Regions from separate parts of the Homo sapiens genome. Here region 2 is linked to region 1. The links come from fine-mapping of genetic effects on gene expression. Tissue or cell type: caudate. Region 1 holds a variant in brackets; the other region holds the start of a gene. All regions are shown on one strand. Distances are from middle to middle.

Evidence for each region. PIP is the estimated chance that this variant, and not a neighbour inherited with it, causes the effect.
Region 2: it holds the start of MIR3659HG, and the variant in region 1 is fine-mapped to the expression of MIR3659HG in caudate (GTEx, PIP 0.98).

The regions. Positions count from the first base shown.
Region 1 is chr1:38,113,270-38,116,025 of GRCh38, reverse strand. The region is part of intron 4 of MIR3659HG (MIR3659 host gene); the gene reads right to left. Among named protein-coding and RNA genes, the nearest start is that of MIR3659, 25 kb to the right of the region's middle. RefSeq lists enhancers at 1-77, 1,188-2,053. The variant C/G (reference allele first, on the strand shown) is at 1,061.
Region 2 is chr1:38,046,075-38,048,702 of GRCh38, reverse strand. It overlaps MIR3659HG (MIR3659 host gene), which reads right to left and starts at 1,569. Exons shown (of 5, transcript NR_168386.1): 1 at 1,089-1,569. It overlaps POU3F1 (POU class 3 homeobox 1), which reads left to right and starts at 1,910. Exons shown (of 1, transcript NM_002699.4): 1 at 1,910-2,628. The coding sequence starts at 1,960. RefSeq lists enhancers at 606-1,106, 1,107-1,607 and a silencer at 1,520-1,849.

The sequences.
Region 1 (2,756 bases):
TGGCAGGCAGGGAGGCAGCTGGCTCTTGCCACTGAAGCATGGGCCGCTGAGGAAAGAGGAGATTTGGAAGACAGCTCCTTGGCTCAGGCCTGCAAGGTGCTCTCAAAGGGGGTCAGGCAAGATGGCCCGCCCGCCTCGCTCCCTCCCCCAGGGCTGAGGGGTGGGCAGGGAGAATGGGTGAGCCTAATGCTGCTATTTTGATTAGATGAAACAAGGAGGGGGGGAATATAAAGTAATTTCAGGACGCTCTGTGCTGGGAAACCTTCTGTTCACGTCCTCGGATAGAATCTGTAACACTTGCAAAGGGGGAAACGTCCCCCTCCACCTTCCTGGAGAGGAAAAGGTTTGGGAGGAAATGGAGGTCAGGGAAACACACCCTAACACACACACTCACACACACACACATGCACACTCTCTCTTTCTCTCCTCCAGACTCTCATTTTACACACACCTACAATTCACTTAATAGACGTACACACTCGCATACACGTCTGGGCCCCCCAGGAACACCCGTATTTACACACGATATCCCCAGTCCCCCCAAAGGTACACACGCAACGCGAACTGGAGAGGCACATTCGCACATATGCAAGCATTCCCAGACTTCCCGCGACACACACATTCACGCCCTTACACATACAGACACACACTCAGACACTTGAACATAGATGTAGGCACACAGACTCACTTAAGCTGTGCGTAAATATTTACATACACACACACAAGACGTGCTCACGCAAGCACATCCTTGCTAAGACCACATTTCCTGGCAAATTCTGGTAATTCTGACCCCTCTGCCAGAGTTCTTGGTGCCTCTTTGGGAAGAGACAAAGGAAACTAGGGACCTGTCCTTCCTAGAAAGGGAGTAATGTGTCCCCAAGGAATTGGACCCCAAACAAGGATTATTTCTTTCCCCGGAAAGCCAATGACTAGCAAATGCTCCAGTGCCTTCTGGGCTTCCACCTAGAGCTTGGAGCAGGATCTGGGTGGGCCTTGACAAACGGGAGAGCAGAGCGGGAGAAGATGTATTGGTGGGTCCCAGGCCATGAATTGCAGGAAA[C/G]CATCATTGCCTGAGAATTTCCATGTTGACCTCAGAGGCCAGTGTGGAATGGGGTGGCGTGAGCTGCTGTACCTTCATCCCTGAAGGCCCCAAGAGGCCAAGCTCAAAGAAGCTCCAGACTCCCAAAGCTTCCCAGGATCTAGGGCCCAGGGGCTGGACACTGGAGCTTAGAGGCACAGGGTCAGGACCAAACTCCTCAACCACTGTTCCCATTCCCCAGCACCTCCTCCCCAGTGCCTGCATCTCAAAAGGCAAGCTAAATGGCTCTGTATTTGTAAATTAAATATAGCTGCACTTCAGCTTTCCAAAGAGCTGGGAAGGAGAGAAGGAGAAAGAAAAAGAGAGAGAGGAAGAGAAGAAAAGCTGCCGCCCTCAGGAAAGTCTGGCTGGTACAGATTGCCTGAGTCATGAATATTCATCTGGCGAATGAGGAGAGCGGGAGTTTGCATAACAGCTCCACCCACCCAACTGAAAGAAATGTCACCGCCTTTGCCAATAAAGTGCCAAAGGAAGCCGGTGGAGGCTGCCAGCCAGACGGTGCCAAACTGCTGACTTCCACTCTAAGGCGTGGAGAAAGCACATTGTTTCCGGCCCAAGGAGCCGCCACTTGGGGCTGGGGGAATGAAGCTGGCTTCTGGGAGAGAACCAAGAGGAAAAGTTTCACTTGCCACCCACAGGAAGCCTGGTGGGCAGAGCGCCTAGGCCACAGCCCTCCCTAGGGCCCCTCTGAAGACAGGCTCAAAGCTGACTCTTCCAGGGCACCCACCCTGGCCAACCACCAAGGGCCCAGGTTCCAGGCTGGCTCCAGCTGCGAGCCCCATGCTCAGGACTGCCTTAAAGAAACCTCAAGAGGATCCTCATGAGTCCCAGGTTGTTACTAGGGACCAGGAAGCAAGGGGACAAACCAGATGTCACTTTGGGGCCTGGAAGTTTTCCTTGGCCCCATTTTGCAGAAGGGATCACCAACTGCAGGGTCATACACACTTCCAAGGCCCAATCCTACTATCTCTTATTCCAAGACATCTTCCCAGATTCCCTGTCACCAAGACAGAGTCAGTCTCTGTGTCCTCTGCACACCCCAGTCCTGATAGCTTCCTTTGATCCCAGCCCTTTCTGGCCCATGACTGCTTCCTCCCCTGACCTGTGAGCTTAGAGAGTGGGCTCTTCCTGATTGATCGGCCTCAGTGCCCCAGCCCAACATGAGATTCAGAGAAAGCACCTTGAGCAATTCGTTGAGCAGAGTCGATTCTTCCATGCGTTCCCCTCCCCATGCCTGTACCTGGCTCTGGATCTGTCCTTTCTTGGAATCGTGCTTGTCAAGTCCCTGGGAGGAGAGGCATTCCATCCCGGCAGCTCACTTTGGGCCCACTGAGATCAGGACTGAAGCCGAGCAGCTGGCCTCCCATCCTCAGCACCCTACTCCCCATGAAGAGCACGGACAGGCTCCAGCTCCCGTGGCACCCCATCCTCATGGCGGCACCCATTAGGTGGTGTCACAAATGCGCCTGCCTGCCCGCCAGCCTTCCACAGCTGGCTCCCTCCAGTAATTACCTAAATGAATGGGAGAAGCAGAGCTGAAGAGAAGACGTTCTCTTAGTACAGAAAAGCAATTAGGGCTGTGGGCGTCTCCAGCTGCTGCTCCTGTTATGTAAAGTTTGGGATGTGTATTTGGGACTTAATGAGGATATTCGTGTGT
Region 2 (2,628 bases), 67 kb after region 1:
GCCTCAAGGTGACCATTCCCTGGGCCAGAGTCCAGGAAAGCCCAGTATCTCTAGCTCGGTTCAGACACAGAGCTCCATCGCAGCTCTTACAGCTAGGGTGGGACCACGGAGCCTGCTCAGGACAGTGGCCAATGGCAGGATAAGGGCCCTGCTCTGTCCCACTCCTTCCCTGGCTGGTCCTAGGGCATTCAGGGCCCACATGATCAAAGTCTGTGCCCAGGGTGACCCCTGTCACTGTCAACTCTGTCCCAGCCGCCCTGGATCGTTCCAATGGCAGCTGCCACCTGAGCCCCCAGCAACTTTTTTCAATCTAAGGATTTATTCCACAGACCTGATTTGCCCAGTGGGGCCCTAGGTGGGCCCCCAGCTCAGTTCTGTGATCTGGGACCCCAGGGCCCTGTAAGCTATAAATCCACTTGAGGCTAGATCCAGGAGAGAAAAGAGGGAGGACTGGCAGCTGAAGACTCCCTGGGACCCAAGCCTCGGTGTGGGGAAGAGGAGAAAACACAGCTCAGTACCCTCAGCCTGGGGCCCAAGGTCGGGTAAGAAGGCACAAAGGAACTGCAGTGAGGTCCGACTCCACTCAAGATCCTTCAGGGAGTCCTCAAGGGCTGGGGCGTGAGGAGGTAGCTAAATTCCACTGCCCACCTTTCCAACAAGGCCTCCTCAATCTCAATTCCCTTTTCAGCAGCTCCAGGCAAGTCCGGGCAAACTCTAGCCCAGGGCTCTTAGCGAGGCTGGACAGCTCCCGGCCTGCACGCCGGATTTCTGGAGAGCCCGAGCCCCTTCCCTGAGCCCATCCTTCTCCTCTCCCGGGGCGTGATCCCACCACGACCACAGCCGATGAGCCGTTCAAGCTGGGAGAAGGAGCGAGAAGGCTGCAGCGGCGCAGGTCAGATACCCCTGGGCCCAACGTCCACCCCCAACTAGCGCCCTTGCCAGCAGCGTTTTCCCCGGAGCCACAGTCTCCACCTCGAGATCTTCTCCTTCTGGAACCCCGGAGCGCGGCCGGGTACCAGGGGCTCGCGTAGGACTGTAGAACCGCTGCCGCCCGCCGTCCCAGCCCCAGCTGCCCGCGCGGTACTCACCTGGGCCTCAGTGCCCGGGAGAAGGTGTGCCCGCGCGAGGCGTGAAGCCAGAGTCCGTCCGACTCCGCCCGCACCGGACGCGCTCTCAGGGCAGAGGAGGTCGGCGGAGTTGTGACGCTGGGACTAGAGGAAGGAGAAGGAAAGCCGAGACGGGCCGGGCAGACGCGCCGAGGAGCGCCCAGTGCACGCTGGCAGCCGCGGGAGGCGAGGCGGGCGCGGTGAGCAGTCGCGCCGGAACCGAGCCGCGAATCCGCGCCGCCTCGCGCTCGCAGCCGCCAGGACCCGCGGGAATCCTGGTCCGCCGGCAGCGGTACTGAGGAGGGAGGGGCGCGGGGCTGAGCCGCTTCTCGGAGCCCGAGCGCCTCCCGGAGCCGGCAATCCCTGCTGCCCGGGCGGGATGCGGGCGGGAATTCAGCTCGCGTGGAATGTGGGACCGGCCGGGCTCGGAGTCTCCAGCGCTGGGGGAAAGCGGGGCCCACACAGCCAGGACGAGAGGGGGTGCGGTCCCAGGGCCACCCCCGCGCCACTCCCCACGTGGCGGCCGCGCCCCCGGGGCGTGAGTGTGTACGCGGACGGTAGGGGGGCCGTGAATGAAGCCCCAGCGGCCAATCAGCACGGCCGGCGCGCGGGACCCCGGGAGCGACGCCCAATGGAGAGCTCTGGGCGGCCGGGCAGGGTGGCGGGCGGGCGCGCGGGGCGGGGGCCGGGCAGGGGAGGCGGGAGGCAGCTCCGCGGGCAGCCAATGGGCGGCGGGCGGGGTGGGGCTCCGGAGCGCCGAGCGGGTCGGGGCTTTAAGCCGGCGGAGCGAGGCGGCGGGGCCCGCAGACGGAGCGGAGCGGCGGCGGCGGCGCGGCGCAGGGCGCGGGGCGGCATGGCCACCACCGCGCAGTACCTGCCGCGGGGCCCCGGTGGCGGAGCCGGGGGCACCGGGCCGCTTATGCACCCGGACGCCGCGGCGGCGGCGGCGGCGGCGGCGGCCGCGGAGCGATTGCATGCAGGGGCCGCGTACCGCGAAGTGCAGAAGCTGATGCACCACGAGTGGCTGGGCGCGGGCGCGGGCCACCCCGTGGGCCTAGCGCACCCCCAGTGGCTACCCACGGGAGGAGGCGGCGGCGGCGATTGGGCCGGCGGCCCGCACCTAGAACACGGCAAGGCAGGCGGCGGCGGCACCGGCCGAGCCGACGACGGCGGCGGCGGCGGAGGTTTCCACGCGCGCCTGGTGCACCAGGGGGCGGCCCACGCGGGCGCGGCATGGGCGCAGGGCAGCACAGCGCACCACTTGGGCCCGGCCATGTCGCCCTCGCCCGGGGCCAGCGGGGGCCACCAGCCCCAGCCGCTCGGGCTGTACGCGCAGGCGGCCTACCCGGGGGGCGGCGGCGGCGGCCTGGCCGGGATGCTGGCGGCGGGCGGTGGCGGCGCGGGGCCGGGCCTGCACCACGCGCTGCACGAGGATGGCCACGAGGCGCAGCTGGAGCCGTCGCCGCCGCCGCATCTGGGCGCCCACGGACACGCACACGGACATGCACACGCGGGCGGCCTG